Regions from separate parts of the Homo sapiens genome. Here regions 2 and 3 are each linked to region 1. The links come from fine-mapping of genetic effects on gene expression. A gene starts in region 1. Each other region holds a variant in brackets. All regions are shown on one strand. Distances are from middle to middle.

Region 1 (7,547 bases):
TAGGGCAAGTTACAGGCCAGGGGTCAGTAAGCGAAGTCACAATTGCTCCATCCTCCCATCATCCCCAGACAGGTGTGCCACTGTCAGATGCAGCAAGACAGAGTGGGTCTGTGCTTCCTTGGGAGGGACTTCATGCCCTCAGTTGCTCTCTTAGCAACTTTGTCAGTGGAGGTAAAATCAGACTTCCTGAGCACTGGGCAGTAGGAATTTGGAGTTCCAAGAGTTACCCAGGAAGGCTAATTTTCCAGTAAGAAGGATCCTCTCGGTGGGTAGAAGGGGTCAGTGAGGGAGACTGTGGGTCATAATATCCAAGTCTTGGCCCAGGGAAAAGGATGGGTGGACTATTCATGAAGCTAAGGAACACAGGTAGAGGAGAGGCAGGTTGAGGGGAAATTATGAGTTCAGTTTGGGACCTGCCGGGTCTGGCACACATATAAGTTAACCCCATACAAGGTTATGGTATGGTCCCTGTTATAAACTCTCACAGCAGCCTGAGGGTCTCCTTTGTATTGCTTATCCCAGTTGCAATTAGATAAATAATTTCATAATTAGCGTTGAATCTCCGCTCTGGATTGCAAGCTCCCTGGGGCCATCACACACCCAGGTCTAACCACTATGTTGCTAGAACCACCCCCCACCACGTGGCATAGGGTCAGGCACAGAGTAGGTAACCAATAAATGTGTTGAATCAATAAATGAATCCACCTGGAGCAACACAGCAGGCAGTCGGATTCATGGAAAGGAAATTGAGAGAAAGACCTGGGCTGAAGCTGTAGGTTCAGGAAAGTCCTGCACGTGGATAGCAACGGAATCCAGTGCTCTGGGTGAGCTGGCCCAGGTTGGTTGAGAAAATCAAAAGACCTAAGCCAGAACTCTGGGAGACACCAACATCCAATGGGTGCAAGGAACAGGTGCTGCTGCAAAGGCAGACAGTGAACTAAGAGATGATGGTGTTATGGAAGCTAAGGAAAGGCAGAGTTCTGAGTACGAAGAAGTCAACGGAGCCAAATATGGTTAGGTCTCGGAAACAGTAAACTCCGGTGATTACAAAGCACCTGTGTGCCAGGTACTTTTCTGACAGCTATATGTATATGAATGCACTTAATTCTCACAGCAATCACATGATAATTAGGGAAGTAATGTCATCATCATTTTCTCCCTATGATGGGGATACTGAGGCACAGAGAGAGGACCCAGCTAGGCTACCTGGTCCCCGAGCCTGTGCTCTTAACCATGATATATGCCACCTCAGAGAAGGGGTAGCAGATAAGTCACTGGTAACATTGACAAGAGCGATATCGGTGGCACTGTGGGGGTGATGCCACATGGCAGTGAGTCAAAAAGTGAGGCCAGGCACGATGGCTCACGCCTGTAATCCCAACACTTTGAGAGGCCAAGGCAGGTGGATCATGAGGTCAGGAGTTCAAGACCAGCCTGACCAACATGGTGAAACCCCGTCTCTACTAAAAATACAAAAATTAGCCAGGTGTGGTGGTGGACACCTGTAATTCCAGCTACTCAGGAGGCTGAAGCAGGAGAATCGCTTGAACCTGGGAGGCGGAGGTTGCAGTGAGCGGAGATTGCACCACTGCACTCCAGCCTGGGCGACAGAGCGAGACTACATCTCAACAACAAAAAAAAGTGAGTGGGAAGCAAAAGAGTCAAGGGCAGAAGTCCAGCCCCTTGCTACAAAGAGGGGCCCAGCTGCACCCCCACCACCTGGAGTCTGCATCCTCAGGTGATCTGTGCGCAAGGCAAAGTCTGAGAAGCACTGGATGAGATGACTCTTTTAGGAACTTTGGCTAAGAGAAGAAAGAAAAAGTAAAACATGGTGTTTAAGTGAGAGGCTTTTCTTTTTAGGATAGGAGAGGCATGACCATGCTTGTAAACTCAGAACTGTGGTTTGCAGCCCCAACAGCATATTCGAATCACCTGGTGTGTTTTTGAAAAACACCTGATTCCCTGAGGCTCGCCCCCAGAGAATCTGATGGAGTTTGTCTGTGTGGCCCAGATGATTGTAATGTGGGGGGGGGGGGGGTCTGAGACCCACTCAAGGAGAAGGCACAAGAAGGACTTGATGAGACCTTCACAGGGAAATGAGAAGGGACACGATGAGGATGAAGAAATGCAAAGGGGATGTTTTGGAAAAGGAGGAAAAGCACTCAGAGCAAAGCAGACAGAGAAATTTACAGAGGGCAGAGGCGTCAAGAAGATAGATGTTCAAAGGGAATCATGTTTGAGAGCCCATCATTTTTCTTTCTTTAACTAGGACCTCCATGGTATGGCAAGAATGGCACTTGAAACACTTAGATGGTGTTACTGGTCTGCTCAAAGGCTTCTGCCTGGCGTAGTAGGCTGTTGGTGATCCGGCCTCGCTCACCTCCAGCACACTAGGCTCTCTGTGTTCCCCTTCCTACAGCACAGTGATCATGTTCCGGTCTCTGGGCCTTTGTCCTTGCTGCTCTCATCTTTGGGCTGTTCCCCTCACCTCCCTTGGGTCCCCTCCAATGTTCTCTCCTCAGAGAGGACTCCTCTCATCACTCTATTCCTTTCCTCTGAATTGTTTCCTAACACTACCTCATGTCATATACCCACTTGCCCGTTTGTTTATGGTCTGCCTCCTCTGCCCGAACGAATGTAAGCCATGGAAGGAAGGATACGTCTTGCTCACAGTGGAATATCCACCACCGACAACAGTGAGGCCCAGAGGGGACACGCGGCAAGTTTGATGAGTGAATAAATGGCTGTTGCTGCTGCTTGGTGTAAATGCACAGGATGCTGAGATTAACAGGTACTTCTGAGAGTGCCTGGGAAAGGTGATGAGTGGGGGAGATTGCATGAGAGCGAGCTGATAAAGACCAGTAAATGGAAATCCTTACGGGCGCGGTCAAGGAGGGAGTGCAGGATTATAATGGCAGGAAAGACAGCAAACAGAGGCAGTTTATTGTGTGACTGATGATGTGTTTTTTGCACTAGACCACTTACTATGTGTGGCTCTGGGCGAACTTCTTAACCTTTCTAAGCCTCAATTACCCGATCAGTAAAATGAGGCTGATAACCATAGTGCCTTCCATCCAGGGTTGTGGTGGGGGTTAAATGAACTAATGGAGCCTGGCACCGGGTGAGCACCCAATAATTAATTGCTATGACGGATTCAAGATTGGGGGAAGAATGTGAAATGTTGCAATGCAAAGAGATGTTTCTGTAATCGTTGCGAATCTTGGTCCAAAACTTACTACCCTGGAATAGAACTTGTTCCCAACCACTCACCCACACAAACATGTCTCTGCCTTGCTAACGCCATCACCAGCCTTTTCTCCTCTCTGACTCTTCTGAGGTCTAGCCCAGCGCCTGGTACAATAAGTTTCTCCATAAGTATTTGTTGTTTTTCTTTGCACTTCTCACCAACAGTGCTGCCAAGATTTTAACCTGGTCAGGAGAATCTGGTCAGGCAGAGATTAGTGTCTCCAACCTTCCTAGGGGAGAATGGGCTAGGTAGAAAGATAGCACTCAGAGGGCTCTGAATCATCTATAAGGGTGGCATAGTCATAGGAGGAGAGTGGGTTTGGTCCACCAGAACCTCCCTAGGGAGCCATCTGCGTCCAAGGGCGGCCAGAGGCCAAGAAAAGGCGCTGAGGCCTTGGCTCCTTTAAGAGGCGTGGCCTCACTGCAGCCTCCGCAGAGGCGATTGGCTGAAGCTACCGGCCGCGTGGGGCGGGACTCGGTTGCCAGGGAGCGGCGCGGGAGCCCTGAGGGGACTGCGGCGGCTGCGCGGAGGAGCGAGGCACTTGCTGGGGTCGGGGCTGCGCGACGGCGCAGGGGCTGCGGGGAGCGCCGCGCAGGCCGTGCAGTTCCTAGCGAGGAGGCGCCGCCGCCATTGCCGCTCTCTCGGTGAGCGCAGCCCCGCTCTCCGGGCCGGGCCTTCGCGGGCCACCGGCGCCATGGGCCAGTGCGGCATCACCTCCTCCAAGACCGTGCTGGTCTTTCTCAACCTCATCTTCTGGGTGAGCGGGGCCGGGCAGAGCGAGGGGCCGGCGGCGGGGCCGGGCGAGGCCGCGGCGGAGGCGCCCGTGGGGGCCGGGCTTGGGCCTGGGCGGGCGCGCGGGGGCCGCGCGCGGGCCCTCAGGCGGCTGAGGCGAGGGGAGGGCCGGGTGTGAGGCCGCTTCGCGAGGTCCCTGCCGGACCAAGCCGGGAGCCTGGGCGCGGAGGACAGCGAGGGGAGGCCTTCAGGGACTCCACGGCCTCCAGCCGGCGCCTCCGCGCTCGGCCCACGCGGGCTGGCTCCGTGCCAGGCGCCCCAGTCTCCCCCCCCCGGAGTCGCCGGCTGGACGGAGAGCGCTTATTGCAGACTGTAGCAGGACGTCGGGCTCGAAATAGGATCTTCGCCAGAGGCTCAGGTTCCGCGCTCTTTGTCGGGGCCTCGCAGACGAGTGGCCGTCCCGAGGCGGGCAGATCCGCGGGGACGCTGCGGAGCCGGGGCGGGGGTTCCACTTAACGCCCTTTGTGTGTGGAGAACCGGCTGACTGTCACCAGCCCAGAAAATGAAGGGTTTCAACTCGAGGAGCCAAATAATCCATTGACCAAGAACATCGGTCTATTTGTTTTGGTCATGGGGGTGACCAAACTGTGAGATTATAACTCTTGGTTAAATATATGATGGAGATGTCACAAGATTTTGAAAGTGATGAGTTCACTTTCAATAAAAGGTGGCTTATGAATTTTTAAGGGGTACACCCTCTTTGAAAGGAATGTTTATGTCATCTTAGTTTGGGTCCTTATCTCATCAGGGACTTTTATAGTAACCTAAGTTGTTCCTATCCGTCTCTCCACCCTCCAGCCCATCTGGACTTTGCACCCGGATAAATCTTTTAAAACGTTTCCTCTATCACATCACTTGATCTGAAAATAAGGAAAACAGAAGCTTCAGCGGTAGAATAAGGTTCAACTCCTTCCCCTGGTCTTGGAGCAGAAGTCCTCAGTCTGGTCCCAAATCACCTTGCCTCTCTGAACTTGTCATTTCCTTAAACACTTGAGTGCCCTGGACAGATTGCTCTGTCCACAGTCGCCAGAGCACTCCTTGAACATTCCGGTTAACCATACTGTGCCTCTTCCTCCTCCCCATTCAGCTCCTCCCTCCCACGCATACGCACACCTGTTCTGGAAAGAATCCTTTCCTCCTCCCCCGACCCCCCAACAAGGGATAAAACTTCATATCCTGACAGCTGTCTCATAAAAGGATGGTTATATGTTAAAAAGCACTTGCTACACACTTGTATTGCCAGAGTCCTTCGGGGCGTTTGTGTGTGAAGAGTCCTAACTGGGAGGTAGTAGCTGTTGGCAAACACCCAGGCGACATTGGCATTTCCGTGATTTCTTCTTTTCCAATTAGAGCAGTGTTTCTTATACTTTAATTTGAGTTACAGGCTTATTTATTTATTTTATTTTATTTTTTCAGTTTCTTGAGTTTATTGTGAAGAATGAAATGCACATATAGAACCAGTTCCATTAGCAAAAGTCGTATCAGTCTTCTCTTTGTAGATGTGGCATGATTTGTGAATCTGACCATTATAAGGGCATCTTTTGCTAATTTAATACGTATCTATATACCTACTGCTACTTATGCATCCATAACATTTTTTATTCCATAAAGAGAAATGTATTCTACAATGATTAAGTCATTAATTCTCATAGCATCTCGTTATAAACCAGGAGTCAGCAATCTCTGGCCCAAGAGCACAAAACGGTTAGCTACCTGTTTTTCTACAACCTGAGAGCCCAGAATAATATTTACATTTCTAAATGACTGGAAAACAAATGAAAAGAAGAATACTATTTCTTGGCATGTAGAAATTATATGACGTTCTCCTACCATTCGACCCAGCAATCCCACTACTGGGTACATACCCAAAGGAATATAAATCATTCTGTTATAAAGACACTTGCACGCATATATTCACTGCAGCACCGTTCACAATAGCAAAAACATGGAACCAACCCAAATGGCCATCAGTGGTAGACTGGACAAAGAAAATGCGGCACATATACACCATGGAACACCACGCAGCCACAAAAAAGAATGAGATCATGTCCTTTACAGGGACATGGATGGAGCAGGAAGCCATCATCCTCAACAAACTGATGCAGGAACAGAAAACCAAGCACCGTGTGTTCTCACTTATTTTTTATTTATCTTTTTTAAGAGTTACAGGCTTTTTTAAAAGGAAAAATAATTTTCAGGGGTCCCCAAATGAGAAACACGTTGTCAGCTAGTAAGCTACCTAAGAGGTAAAGATGTGGCTTTGTACTCTTTACAGTTCCTTGTGAATTTATGGCCATAACTATTTGATTTTGAAGAATATTAGGTGAATTCTAGGTTATTCAAGCTCAGGGACTGGAATTGTTCATGTAACAAAATATTGGAAATACAGTAACCATTTTCTTTAAATTAGATTTTTATTTACTCTAAAATATCAGTTCTAAGTGACTCCTCTGAATCTTTGGATATTGTGTAAATATATGTACTGTTATTCCAGTGAAGAAAGTTATTTTGAACTTCAGTGGTGCTTTTCATAGCGGGTTATTGCCAAGACTGAAGTGGTAATGTTTAGTAAAAATATGCTTTATCTTGGTTAGTAGGGTAGTAAAGTTTTTGTGAGCTGTGATAAGGAAGTTAAGCAGATACGCTGGGGGCAAATGTGTCACAGTGCAATGTAGCTAATGAGGAAACAGCATTAGGTATGTCTCCCAAGAAAGTATTAGTTTGTGGACTAACTGTGGGAATCTGATGATGATGGGTAATGGCAACTAACATTTGAGTTACTATACCCCAGGCACTGTGCTAAACACTTTACATGGCATATCCTCACAGCTTTCCCATCTAGCAGGGAATATTAGGTACATTTTAGAGGAGAACATTAAGGTTGACTGAGCCAAAGTAGCACACCCAAGGTGTGATACAGCCTGCGTTCAAACCCAGGTTGTCCCATACTCTAGAGACTGTGATGTTAGGACAAAGTGTGATTTCAGAAGATTTGTAAAGAGAAGAAAGTTGTTAGAATCACTTCTCTAAAGCATGCTGATTTTGAGATTGCTAAAATTAGAAACTGTACCAGAATTTACATGACACTTTGTTTGGTTTTGAATTAAGTCATTATGAGGAAGTACATTAAAAAATGTTAAAAGGTTCTTCCTGGGAATTTGTAATGCATTCTTCAGTTCTAATAAATGTATTCTTATATGCTGGCCCCTCCCTCCTTTTAATGCCTTGAGATGATGAATAAGTGGAAGAATAAACATACTCTCCATAGAGCTTATCAAATGTTTACCTAGGTTCCCTTGGGCAACTGTAGGCAATAAAAACTATGTTGCATTGGCTCTTCACTGTCAGATGGTAATGGCTGATTGTTAACAAGGGTCAAAGTTTAATTGCTTTGGCAAGACCTTTAAACTACACTTTCTTATGTCTTGATATCCTGATTCTGCTGGCATTTTGTTCATTGAACTGTGACATGGAGATAGATATATACCTGAAATACTCAGGCTGTAAA
Region 2 (6,637 bases), 30 kb after region 1:
TACCACCACCTCCCCCGAGCATGGTCCCCCCAGTTTTCAATATGAACCATCCTGTGGGTACCCTGTCACAGGCTGGCCCTGAGGTGAGCAATATTTGGACTGTGATGTTGGTTGTTCTCCACTCTTTCTACAGGACAGAACAGGGCCTCTAGAGTGGGAAATGGCTTTGGGAAATATGCCAAGCAGTAGCCTTGTTCTTCAACTTGCCCAAGAGGATAATTCTCCACACCCTTCCTGTACTCAGTCCTCAGTTTGCCTGGTGAGAGAGCAGCCTCCTCCCGTGTGCTCTGCCAGCTGGACCCAGACTGGCCATATTACCAGTGAGACCAAAAAGATGGAGGTGGGGAGGTAGCTCTGAGGTCTGGGAAACCATTCCAGCTCCTGCCAGTTTTAACTTGTGTTTAATTCCTGGCACAGTTGTCCTGGAAATGCCTTTTTCTCTTGCCTGGGAACCACTAGAAGGGGATGTTGTCTGTGTTGGCCAGGGCCATGCAAATTCAACATCTTGTTTCTGCCCTTCCCCCGTGTAGCTGAGGCTAGGTGTTGGCATTACCCAGTGCTTGTTCTTCAGAGAGCAAAAGCACTGCTCGTCATGTCTGAAATTTAGTGAGTGAGCTCACCCACTAGGCTGGTGTTTCCTGCCCGTGGCTGCACATTGGAAGCACCGGGGCACTTTGAGAACTACAGATGCCTGGGTCCCAGAGCATCTAAGGTGCTCTAGGGTGTGTCCAGGACACAGCCCTGGTTGAGGACCACTGCTATATTGTATGGCCTCTTTTAAAAAAGTTAATTTTACTTGGAAATGATTTCAAAGCTACAGAAAAGTTGCAAGAATAAAAACTGTACAAATGAGGCTCAAATATCCTTTGCCCAGATACACCTATTAACATTTCGTCCCATTCTATCTGTCATGTGTGTTCTCAAATGTGTGTGCGTTCTCTCTCCCTTGCGCCAACCCCCTGTCTCTCCCTCTCCCTCCCTCCTGCTGCCTCCACACCTGTCATGGCCTTTTACCCCTAATACCTCAGTGGGTACTTACCAAGAAGAAGATACTCTCTGACGACTGCAGTACAGTTGTCAAATTCCGTCCATCTAACACTGATAGAATACCTCACCACTCATATTCCCATTGGCCGCATCGTGTCCTCTATAGCACCTTTCCCTCTGCGGTGCTGGATCTGGTCTGGATCAGGTAATCAGTTGAGTTGTCATGTCTCCTTGGTCTTCTTTAATCTGGATCATTTCCATAGCTTTGTCTGTGATGATAGGAACAGTTTGTAAGGATACAGTTCGTTTTAGGTGGTGCTGCTTATCTGTGTTTGTCTGCGATTTCCTCGTGATTAGATTTGGTTTTGCATTCCAGGTGGCTGAACCACTACCTGCGTCACGCGGCCTCTCAGGGCATCGCATCTCGAGGCACACAATGCCCATCTGCCCCACAGTGGGGATGTTCGTTTTGATCATCTAGTCCAAGGAGGAGGAAATGTGAACAGGAAGGTTTTAATATAAGTAATTGTTAACTGTGTAGAAGGTAGTTAACTACTAAAAGGGATAAAAAAGAGCTCTAAAGCAGCTTAGCAGAGAACAGCCATCACCCCTAGGGCTAAGGGAAGAGAAAACAGAGAAGGAACGTGGAAACTCAGAGGAGGTTCCCCAAGGTGGAGAGACCTCCGAGGGGTGGCTGTGGTTGCCTGGGATATGCTGCCTGTCCCATGCTGGAGAATCAACTTACTGGAGGTGCCCCCCCGCCAAGCCACAGGAGCAGAGAGCTGTCACGGTGGGGAATGCTGCTGGGACCCGTGCAGGACGAAAGGAGACAGAAGAAAAAGGCCATCTTCCTCCTCTAGCCTTGTTAGCCCCTTCAGAGCCCACTGTGGGTCAGGCTGGCAAAGGGTAAAGGAGTTTTCAGAGCCCCCTCTTCAGTGTGACAAGGAAGGGCAAGGTCAGGGAAATTTGGAGTTAAGAGGCAATAAATGAGTACCTGGCACACCTAGTCGAGGTGTGTCCACTTTCTCCATAGCATGGTTACTGTTTTTTTCTTTTCAACTAATAAGAAATCTCTGGAGACACACTGTCTCCATGTACATACCCTGTTCCTCATGAGACTCTTCCCCATTCCCCGACCAGGTTCAGCAAATGTTGCTGATTCTGGCCTGATTCAATCTTTATGATGACTGCCAAGCGACGTTTCTGCAGCCCAGCACTCCTTCCTCATTTGCCAGTCATCCCTCCCTTCTCCTTCATTTATTTTCATATATCCACTATGGATTCCCATTTTTTCAAAAGTCGACTTCATCATTGACCTTTGGGGATGGGGGAAGAGTTCCTCAGATAGTTCCCGACTTGGCCAG[C/T]GAGAGCCCCTTCGAGTGCCTCCTATATCCCAGCATTTTTGGAAGCACTCCCCTAATTTCTGATCTAACAAGATGTTCCAGGCCCCTGGGCACCAGCCATGGATCAGTGTTTGTCCCAGGAGCCCTGGTCCCTGGCACTAGGTGTGCTTATTGCAGCTGGGGTGTCTTTGCTTCTTGTCCTATAGATGATTGACAGAGCTTGTCTTACTGCCTTTTTTAAGTGTATTTTTTTAAACAAAAGTAATTGGTGCTTTAAAAAATGTGAACAATACAGACATCTGTAAAGAAGTACCCACAGGGAAGCAAGTTCAGCAGTTCAGCAATGGCATGTGTCTTTGCAGACTACATACACAGAAACAGACTTGGTATTGGGTTTTGGTTTTTGCTTTTTGCTAATAGGAATTTTATCCTACAAGATCCTCTTTCTGTCTTCACAACATAGTCTGATGCTCCTTCCATGTCTAACTGTAGGATTTGTCATTCCATTGTGTTAGCTGTGTGGGTACATTAGTACCATGATTAACCAAGGTGTATAAAGGGCAGGCCTGCAGGCTGCCTCCAGTGCCTCCACTACTCGCCACAGTGATCATCTCTATACACACACTGCAGTCATTTACAATTTTTAAAATGAAAACAATTTTTATTGAGATGCAATTCACATGGCATAAAATTAACGATTTTAAAGTAAAGAAGTTGCCTTGAGTACATTCACCATGCTATAGAACCACTGCCTGTATCTAGTTTCAAAGCACTTTCATCACCCTGTGTCATGTATTTTTACATGAACTCCAAGGGTGGATTCTTGTTAGTTGGATTTACTCTGGATGGAAAAGTCATGTTTGGCTGGGTGCAGTGGCTCATGCCTGTAATCATAGCACTTTGGGAGGTCGAGACAGGTGGGTCACTTGAGATCAGGAGTTCAAAACCAGCCTGGCCAACATGGTGAAACCCATCTCTATTAAAAATACAAAAAATTAGCAGGGCCTGGTGGCATGCACCTGTAATCCCAGCTACTTGGGAGGCTGAGGCAGGAGAATCGCTTGAACCGGGAGGCAGAGGTTGCAGTGAGCCGAGATTATGCCACTGCACTCCAGCCTGGGTGACAGAGCAAGACTCTGTCTCAAAAAAAAAAAAAAAAAAAGTCACGTTTAAACATTTTCATGGATACATCTGGTTGCTCTCCAGAAAGCTTATATCAATTTCTATTCCCACCAGCAGTGAATGAAATGTGCATTTCTTTACACCCTTGTTGACACTTTTGGTGTGATCAGCCTTCATCTTTTCTTCCATTCTGAGAGATGAAAATATGTGTTTATTTGACTGTTAGCTAGGGCCAGGATGCTTTTAAAGGTGTTTCAGCCATTTGTATCTTCTGAATTTTGCTTCTGTCCTCTGCCCGGTTTGATTGGTTATTGGGTTTTTTTCTTTCGGATCTTAACAGAGTTTACTTAGGAAACTTTTCTGTGAAGCTTAATGTCTGTAGCTATTGTGAATGCAATGGTTTTCCTAACTTATTTCCGAGTTGGTGGTTGTTGGTGTGTAACAGCACCTGCTTTTTGGGTGCATCCTTGCAGTTCTTGAAAATAACTTGTGTGTTGCACGTGGCTTTCTATTGCAGTGCCTGTGAGATCTGTGAGGTCTCCTGAGGGTGTAACACAGTGACGTGGCAGAAACCTCGTATCTACTGAATGGTGCTGCTGCATTGCTATTTGTGGGGAAGTTGAGTCATACATAAATCCTGCTCCCCTGAGTTTATCCAATGAAGAAAGTAAGACAGATGTAGAAATTATAGGGTAGAAAAGAGACTTGCTGATCTTTTTTTTTTTTTCCCCGAGACAGAGTCTTGCCCTGTCATCCAGGCTGGAGTTCAGTGGCACGATCTTAGCTTACTGCAACCTCCGCCTCCTGGGTTCAAGCAGTTCTGCCTCAGCCTCCCACATAGCTGGGATTACAGGCGCGCACCACCACGCCTGGCTAATTTTTGTATTTTTAGTAGAGACGGGGTTTTACCCTGTTGGTCAGGCTAGTCTCGAACTCCTGACCTCGTGATCCGCCCGCCTCCGCCTCCCAAAGTGCTGGGACTACAGGCGTGAGCCACCGTGCCCGGCCTACTTGCTGATCTTTGTTATCCCACCATCTGGCAGGTAGTGGGCACTATCACCTGAGATAAGTCACTATGGTGCCATAACTGTTTTTCAAACTTTTAAAAATGTTTAGCTGAAGATCCTGTTAGCCAGGGGTTTCTCAGCTCCGGCTGCGTATCAGAATCACCAGGAGAATGTTTCAAATATTTATGCGCAAGCTCAGTTTGCAGGGATTTGGTTTCAGTTTGTCTGAGGTGGGACCCAACCATCAGCATTTGAAAATCTGCTCAGGTGACTCCGTTGAGCAGCTGGGTTGAGAACCACTGCACGTGCAATATGTAAACTCTCCAAGTAGATCTCGAAGTGGAGTGGGTGCCCCCTTTCTCCTCCCACTGGCCCCTAAGAGGGCTCTACTGAGCACAGTTTGATAATCCCGTGAGGGTGCTGAGGGCAGCGAGCCCAGTTGCTGGTGCGACCTTGTCCTGGGCTTGTGTTGGCTCAAAAGCCGGGATGGAGAAATAGGCAGACACCCAGGTAGTCAGACCAAGGCAAGCAGGTGACCCTTATGCTGAGGTTTCTTGGCCTAGGAAAGGCTGTGAGAGTGGTTGGAATTAGGTGTTGGACACCAGTGGCGCGTGCTTCCAGTTTGGCCAAACGTGAGTTGCTGCTTTTTGTCATCATTGCGAAGGATTCACTGACATAACCACAGCTGTCCCAGAGGGTGTGCTGAGCGAGGGGGATTATGCCAAGCGCAAAGCTGCTGTTGAGTGTAGCCAAGATTCAGAGGTTGTGGGTCTTTTCCTTAAAAGTGGTATCCCTTGCTGGTAAGTAATACCTAATCATTGTTTAATTTGAACCTTAGGAGATTTTGCATGGGGGCATATTGCACCCATCTTACTGATGCTGAAACAGGCCCAGAGAAATTGTGACTTGCCTAAGACCACCCAAGAAAGCGTGAGCCTGGATTCAGGCCCTGATGTTGTGATTCAGAGACCATGCTTGTCCTCCTGCTCCTTGCTGTCTTTGAGTGGCCCTCGGTCAGGAAGAGGCTGCAGTTATTTATACACCCAATTACACGCTAACTCCCTCTTTATCTGGCACCGTCTCTGCTGGGAAGGCCATCCATCCATGCAGTTGGTTCCCAGCAGCTGAGGTGGTGCCCAGTGATGGGAGAACGGAGAAAGCTGCAGAAGCAGTGAATCTGACTTGGATTCATTTGTGGGCATTCTCCCCCTGGCATAAATTGTGACCCAAGAGTTGCTTTCAGTTCTATTCTCTGGCCACCCGAATGACTGGAGAACAGACTCTGTTATCTAGCACTTGTTACCCATCACGCTCTGGGGCCCACAGACACTGCGGCACCTGTCAGAGATGATGATAAATATCTAGGCCAAAGGTTTTTTAAAAAATCTTTGCAGTGGAATGGAATGTTCAATCAAGATGACAAGGCATCTTCAAGGAATAAGTAAAGTATTGATACCTTTTTACTCTTTCCTTTCCCTTCCCTGCCCACACATGGCCCCACCCAGTGGTAAGCCTACGCGGCTGTCCCGCCTCTCCCAGCCCTCGCCCAGGCTTTGTTCCCGCACCACTCCCCTCCAGCTCCTCCACCTGGGGAGGAGCCCATCTTCAAGTCTGGGCTCCGAAGTCACTCCTCACCTCCTCACTTTCCCTCTCTTCCCACCCATCTCCCATCCCGTAAGTTACCAAGTCCTGTCCATCTGCTCCCTGTGTTCTTCCAGAGTTGCTCTCCAGCCCAGTCACCACTTCCCAGACAAGCCACCCTCCCCTCTGCTGGATGGCCTGCACCAGCCCCTGGAACCACTCCCCCCACTTACTGCCTCACATCTCAGGGCCTAGAGGGTGGCTGTCTGTCCTCCTGGGCTGAGTGAGCTCTTTGAGGCCCCTTTTAGCACCACACCCCCATCATCAGGTACAGTGTGGGCCACACATGAGTCATTAGAATGTCCATGTCTCATGCTTGCTTAACTGAACCCAATTTTTTGCTCAAGTAAAGATCAGGGTATAAAGATGGGCATTCTGTCTCTCTCCCCCTCCCTCCTTTCTCTCTCTCTCCCCCTCCCTCCTTTCTCTCTCTCTCCCCCTCCCTCCTTTCTCCCCCTCCTTTCTCTCTCTCTCTCTCCCCCCCTCCCTCCTTTCTCTCTCTCCCCCCTCCCTCCTTTCTCTCTCCCCCCTCCCCAT
Region 3 (7,547 bases), 47 kb before region 1:
ACAAATAAAATGGTGAAATCTTACACAGTTACCTTCTTGAATTTCTCTTCTAGGATCCAAAATCACTTTCTTGGGCATGTGAACATTTTTGCAGCAATTCAAGCTGTAAATTATCTGGCCTACCCAACAGTTCTCATAGCAGATTCCTACAACATGGAGTCCTGAGTACTTTGGGCCCACACAGCGTTTTATATATTAAACACTTAATCTATTTTGAATATAGTTGTAACAGCATTGAGTGTGTGTGGGTCTTAGCTCTGTAGCAGCAAGTATAGCAATACTCCTCCTAGGCAGATCAAGGAATTGAGGTCAATCACTGATCAGCCTGTATTCTTAGAGTGGGATTATACCAAATACTGGATATCAATTTAGAAGTTGCAGGGTTTCATTCTATGCTCACTCCCATTTGCAGTTGTACTTTTGTGTGATATGACAAAATGGCACAGATGGTGTAATGTGTATGATTGTTAATGTTTCTCATTTTTGTCCCTCCACAATTCATTCCCTATAGCATCCATCTCACTTAAGGTTCACTGAGGCACTATAGAATGCATAGAGTGAGATGGAAATGAGATTCCCTGCTGATAAACTGGAAGTAGGCTGAAGGCATACTGGGCCCATAATGGAAAAATCAGAGCTAATGTAGAATATTTTTGAAGAGTCTTATATTTTGTAATTATTGCTTTCTTTGGGGCAAAGGAGAGAAAATTGAATCGAATGACAGAGAGCCATGTTGTTTTGTAGTTTTGTGCAGTACAAAATCAGCAAGCCCCCAGGGCAGCCTGGACTCAACAGACAGCCCTCACTGATCAGATTTCACTCATTTGTGTAGTCAGGTCATTCATGAGTGTTTATTATTCAGGTTTATCTGCCGTTGCCCCCACCCCATCACCTTGCCAACTTTTATCTGTTTCATAAAAGCTGTTCATATATTCTACCTGTTCCGAGTAAATAAGCCCTATGGCAGCACTGGATCAGATGCTGCCTTTTCTCAGAATCTTTTACAGACATATGGAGCAAGTACTACGTGCCTTGCTCTGTGCTAGGCCCTAAAGATACAAGTATCTGCTTGTAAGATAGACAAAAAAATGTCAGAGGAGGGAGGAAAGGGGACAAGGGTTGCAAAACTGTTGGGTACTGTGTTCAGTACCTGGGTGATGGGATCAGTTGTACCTCAAACCTCAGCATCATGAGATATACCCAGGTAGCAAACCTGCACATGTACCCCCTGAATCTAAAATAAAATTGAAAAAAATTATAAAAAACAAAAATTTTTTAAAGATAAAAAATGTGATAACTGCAATAATAGAGATATGTACAAGATATAGAAGTAACACAGAAAGGGGGTTTAGGGTATTTAGCACTTCCTCTCTCTGATAAAGTAATGCCTGAGAAGGGCTTTAAAAGAAGTAGGAATCCCTCAGGCAGATGAGGGGTGACAAGGAGCCCCAAACTGAGAGAACACCTGGAGGGTAGAGTGGGTGGCCGGCTGCAGATAGCTCAATATAGTAAGAGCAAATGGAACACAGGTGGGAAGTAGGACTGGAAAGGGAGGCAAGGCCAGGACTTTCTCCTATGAGGATAAAGCGGAGCCGCTAGGAAATTTAAATAAGGAGGAAATACCAGCTGTTGTTTTTTAATGGCTCTGTAGCCATGTGGAAGATGTATTCGAGGGGATCACATTAGAGGCAGGCAGACCAGTTGGAAAGCTTTTGTGGTTGTCCAGGCAAGTGATGAAGGTAGCAATAGAGATGGAGAAAAGAGGATAATTTGAAAGTTATTTAGAAGAAAAGTCAATGAGAGTTGATAATTAATTAGCCATAGGGAGTGAAGATGCAGGAGAAATCCAAAGTGAATTTGGTTTCTCATCCAGGTAACAAAGCCATTCATCAAGAGAGGGAGTACTGGGAAAGCAGTGAGTTTGGTGGGACGGAGAGTTCAGGTTTGGTTATGTTGAGTTTAAGTAATCTATGGGTTAGGACATATATGGGAAGAAATCAAGTAGGTCATTGTATAGATGAGCCTAAAGCCCAAAGACAAGGGTGCGTTACAAATGTAGACACGGAAGTCAGTAGTGTATATGACATGGTTGAAGCTATGAGCAAGCTTGCGGAAGAGAGTTTGTCAATGAAAAACTAGGATGGAGAGCAGGCACTCCAAACACCAGCACTTCACGGAACCTTTGGGAAAAAGGGTCAATGAAGAAGAATGAGTAACACCATGCCATTCAACGACAGATTAATTCCATAGTCATATCATCCAGTTTTGCACAGGTCCACCTTTCCCCCTATCCCTCTGACTTAGTTGCCTTAAACAGAGTATCTGTTGTTGAGAGAGCATCAAGAGGTATGTCCTCTCACAGGTCCCAGGCTTTGTGATCATTCTGAAAGGTTCAGTAGTGTTAGACAGCACTATCTTCTCCCCAGCTATTTTTAATGGGACTTTACAGTCAAAGCCCCTGATGGTCTACTTTTTAGAAGTTAGCTCTCTAGGTTGAAGTTATTACAAACATAAATGCTTTTTAATGACAAATTTGCCTTAAAGGTATGCAGGGCAGTTGTCATGAGCAACATGGAAAATGAGCCCCTGAACTGAAATGTATGTTTGGAATTAAACTTTTCAGGTTGTGCATGATGAATCATTTTCAAGCTCTGTTTCCCTGCTAAGATTGTAAATGTTGGGTTCTTTGACCCGAGTCTGAGAAGGTCTCAGGAGAGGGTAATTTGGCTATGATTCTGGAAGACAATATGTTGTTTCCCCTCTCCCCCAGTTTTCCAACAGATGATTTATCAGTGGTTAAAGGGTCCCCACCCTCTGTATTTAGGAATCTGGTCAGAATGCTTCAGGATGCTGTGTCTTACAGATGGGAAGTGCTCAGGAGCCATGAGATACTTGTTTGAATGATCAATTGATAATGAATTAATATTTTTCCCTTCTCTGTCCTCACTGATCTTTATTAACCCAGACAAGCAGCCAGTTTCCCTTCAAGCCTCTGTTTTTGCAACTGTAGGTTATTCATGTTGGTGCATATGTATATACCAGCTGACTGGCTGTCCCTTTTGATGTTCCTCTGACTCCTTTGGAGAATAGCTCAAGCGGGCATTTCCTGTGAGCTGGCAAGTGGGCGAGGGTCACTGTGCCCAGGATGGGCTTCTCTTCCTGTCTGTGCTCTTCACACGAGGAGTTCCCTTGGCATGCATTTGGTATTGCCAGCATCATAGAAGCAAAAGCTTATCCAGAAAGAGGCCCTATGGTGTATTTTACAAGAAGATTCAACCTTCAGCAGCCTGGTTTTGTTCTCCTGCTGCACAGTTTATAAGTAAATGACTCCTGGATATTGATATTGCAGCTCCCTCTAGTGTCACTGTGGCTCAGGCTCTCATAGCATTTTTTCTTGCCTTTCAGAAAATATAGACAGCACAGAATCTGCCAAATTCACAGCATTTTAAGTAGATTTTCCCAAACATAGCCAAGGCAAATATGAGGTGATTTTTCCCCTATTAGAAAAGGGAATGTTTAATGAAGATGTAGGACCATTCCAGTTCTAGTTTATTTTTATTCCTATTTTTAAATTTTGGGGGTCCTAGGAGGAGTCCTGAAGTAATCATTTATAGATTAAAGAGTAGCTGGCATGAACAAGTAGAATCTTTCTTGAGATTCCTCCTGCTACTCTTGAGATGCCAGCTACTCTTTATAAAGAAGGAATGTGAATTCTTTTCAAGAAAGATAATGAGAGCCAAGAAGAAGTTACT[T/G]TAATCCCTGGTAGAGAAAATACTGGGTAAGGGCAGAAGGAAAAAATTTGACAGGAAGAACCCTATCCATTTGTTCTGAAAAATTGGTTTGTTTTCTGAAATAACTTTTGAACTAGAAATTTGTTATCTGAAGTCAGGTCATTTTGAGGTTTTTTTTTTAACTAAAGGAGTTATTAATATTTGAAAAATGGCTACAATGTGGTACCTAGAATAATATAATACTCCTACCTAAATTAACATCATTGCAGGCTCCATAATAAAGATTTATGAGATACCCATCAAGCAAAATCCTATTATGGAAATCTCCATTGGTCTGTGTTTGGGTTGTAACTGTTTTCAGGGTTATGAACCAAGTAAAATCACTCTTTTTCCCTCCTCTTTTACACTCTAGTCTTCTCCCTTTTGCCTTTGCTCTTAAAGCTAGAGTGACTCATTATTCTTCAACCTGTCTATGTATTATAAAATGAAGAGATAAGGAAGTGCTGCCCACTCAGGTTATCTATCTAGGGAGACCATTTTCCTTTAGAGCATCCAAAATCGTGAAACAATTTATCATTTCTTCTTCGTAAATCACTTTGATCCTTTATCTCAAGTAGATCTGTGAAGCTAAACATAAATTCTTATTGTAGTATCCACATTCTTGTCTACTCACAAAGCTCTGGAGGACCTTATAAAAATGTGTGTGTCTGTGTGAATGTCTAGATATAATTAGAATATCACAATTAAAATACGAGTCACAATTAGAATACCTTCTCTGCTTCTAATATTAAACTACAAGGTCACAGTTTTTTTTTTCAGCCTGACTTGACATAGTTAAAAACTAGACTTGGCCAAACAATTCTCTCTCATAGCTTTAGGTTGCCCTGTCTTGGATTCTAACATACTGCTGGTGTTAACTTGTTTGTCAGGGCTGACCCTGGCTTGGAGGTATTGAATGTTAGCAGTTTCTTTTTGTCTGTCCTCTATCAAATTTGTGATCAGAGAGCCTCACTGCTGTGGCAGGTGGCTGTCGGGACTCAAAATAAAGATCTATTTTTCTGTTTTGCTCATTGTTTCAAAAAATTAGGATTCTCTAAGATTGCATTAGTTTGACATTTGCAAGTTGTTAACTGCTTTAGTCATTATCAGTGTTGCATTTGTACAACTTTGTAGTTTACAGATGTACGCTATATACTTGATCCCAATTAATCCTCACAACTGCCCTGTGAAGTAGATTTCAGTGTTCTTCATATTGTCTCCTTTAATAGGGAGACTGAGACCCAGAGAAATTAGTGAAATGCTCAAGGTTATACAGCTAGTAGCAAAGCTAAATCCCAGGCCTCCCAAGCCCTTGGAGAGTGTCATTTTTTATAATGTAACAGCTAGAGTTTAACCATCCAATCTGATTCAGCCAAATTTAGTGGTATGAAGAGTTGAGACCCTTGAGCTTTCATTCCAGAAGACAATATAATATTGAGCAAATTTAACTGGCAATGGGGATAATGGTGCCATGTGCTGGATCCAACTCCTATACAACTAAACAATGACTAGTATAGAATTTTTAAATACCTGGTAACACTTAAATGTGAAATATTGCCAACAGTGCAGTTACAAAAATAACAAATGTTATGATTGATGAGCATATAGGATTATATATTATACTGCATATACTAAGACTTCGAGAGCTTTCCAGAGATAATATTTTCTGAAAGATATATGTTTGAACTTGAACTCAGGCTGGGGATGTCTGTTCAAGACCAGAAGTTTGCTTAAAAAAGAAATACTTAGTATATCCTCAAACTGAATTAGATAGGTAGTAGAAGACTTGAAGGAACTTGTGCTGAGGTATAGATAGATAGATAGATAGATAGATAGATAGATAGATAGATAGATAGATAGATTGATTGATTTCCATGGCACTGATCACTGATATCAGGCTTCTTTAACTGTAGTAAATATGATAAACTAGAGAATAAGAGAAAGAGAGAGAGAGATGCTTTTCTCCGCTGAGACTCCCTTGTCTTTGATCTTTTTTTTTTTTTAATCTATTTGAATGGAAATCAGAATGTGCTGCTTCTCAGAACTGGGTCCTATCTGAATCTTCCTAAGAATGTGTACATTTTTCTTTTTAAATAAAAATGACTAGAAATTGCTTTTTTAAGTTTTGCTTTTCTGTATTATTGTAATAAACATGCAGTGTAAACACTACAGAGAGTGCATGTTCCTGGGAGCCTTTGATATTTGTAATGTGGCAGTGTGCCTCTGCTGAGGAGGGAGAGCAGAGAATGACCCTCAGTTAACAGGGCTGTGGAGCAGACTCCAGACCAGACTATTATGATCCATGAACTAGTATTAGAGACTCAGTCTTCCACGGTCAGCCTCTCTATAGCATGAGAATAACCCATTTGGGGGTGGTTTTACTTACTTTTTGCTTTGATAACCCCTTAAGAGTAGAAATAGAATCGTCACAGTATGTAGAACTCTTGGCTAACTTTTTTTGATCAAAAAATTCTTCCTTGATCCATAACCACTTAGTAAAGTTCTTTATGAAAGGTTTTATTGCCTCAATAGTGGGTATTAAATGAGGCCTGTTAAGAGAAAGCATAAAACTCAGAAAACCACCATTGAAATGTTGGCTTTGTTCTGACTAGGTCAGACCAGTGACTCTCTCAACCCTACCAGTGAACCATGAGTGCCAGTGTTGTGACCATCACAATGACATTCATTGAAAAGTTAGGAAAACCCACAGTTTACCTGGCCAATGTTATATCACTCTCCTAAGCTGTGAGATGTTGACACAAAGGGCGATGGGTGATGAAATAAGGTATTTTGGTCTCCATTATGAGTCCATTGGCCTGCTGTATCATTCTGGGCTACAAACCTCTACAGAAGTAAGAGAAAAATTATTTCATTGTTGTTGTTCTGATGAGGTGCAAGGTTATAGTGGAAAGAGCAGGCTTTGGCATTAAACAAACTTAGGTTTGCACACATAACCCCGGGCTTTTTTTCTTTTTTAAATTCTTAGATCCTCAATCTACTGTGAAAGGTTAATGTGAGGACTAAAAATGGTACACTTAAAGTGCTCACCACAGCCTGGCATGTAGACAACCATGAGAAATGGTTACCACCATTATTATTGCCACTTAACATGGGGCAAGCCTTGCGAACAACTTTACTATATGATCGTTTGTCCCTAACCAGTCACCTTCCAGTTAATCTTCCCTGATACATCATAAACCTGGTTATGAGAGTGTGAGTTTTGAATTGTTTTATTATCTTTCAGATCTGTAAGAGCAAAGCTAAAGAATCTCAGCAGTATTATCACAGCTTGGCTGTCCGGCAGAGTCTGGCTGTCCATTTTAACATTCAGCAGGACTGTGGTCATTTCCTTGCTGAAGTCCCTAACCGTCTGCTTCCCTGGGAGGATCCAGATGACCCTGAAAAGGATGAGGATGACATGGAAGAGACTGAAGAAGACGCCAAAGGAGAAACGGATGGGAAAAACCCAAAGCCCTGTTCTGAAGCAGCATCATCCCAGAAAGAGAATCAGGGAGTCATGAGCAAGAAGCAGAGGAGCCACGTTGTGGTCATCACCAGGGAGGTTCCATGTCTTACTGTGGCTGATTTTGTGCGAGACTCTCTGGCCCAGCATGGGAAAAGCCCTGATTTGTATGAGAGGCAGGTGTGTCTGCTGCTCTTACAGCTATGCTCTGGTCTTGAGCACCTCAAACCCTACCATGTCACTCACTGCGATCTACGCCTAGAGAACCTGCTACTTGTCCACTACCAGCCTGGGGGGACTGCCCAAGGCTTTGG

What was found. PIP is the estimated chance that this variant, and not a neighbour inherited with it, causes the effect.
Region 2: its variant is fine-mapped to the expression of TSPAN3 in whole blood (TOPMed, PIP above 0.99).
Region 3: its variant is fine-mapped to the expression of TSPAN3 in whole blood (GTEx, PIP 0.97).

What each region holds. Positions count from the first base shown.
Region 1 is chr15:77,067,349-77,074,895 of GRCh38, reverse strand. TSPAN3 (tetraspanin 3) reads left to right here and starts at 3,787. Exons shown (of 7, transcript NM_005724.6): 1 at 3,787-4,004. The coding sequence starts at 3,942. RefSeq lists an enhancer at 3,421-3,480 and silencers at 3,621-4,320, 6,942-7,031.
Region 2 is chr15:77,038,240-77,044,876 of GRCh38, reverse strand. TSPAN3 (tetraspanin 3) reads left to right here. Exons shown (of 7, transcript NM_005724.6): 7 at 1-3,473. Among named protein-coding and RNA genes, the nearest start is that of TSPAN3, 30 kb to the left of the region's middle. RefSeq lists an enhancer at 540-1,739. The variant C/T (reference allele first, on the strand shown) is at 2,352.
Region 3 is chr15:77,114,787-77,122,333 of GRCh38, reverse strand. It overlaps PEAK1 (pseudopodium enriched atypical kinase 1), which reads left to right. Exons shown (of 10, transcript NM_001385026.1): 10 at 7,015-7,547. Among named protein-coding and RNA genes, the nearest start is that of TSPAN3, 47 kb to the right of the region's middle. The variant T/G (reference allele first, on the strand shown) is at 3,753.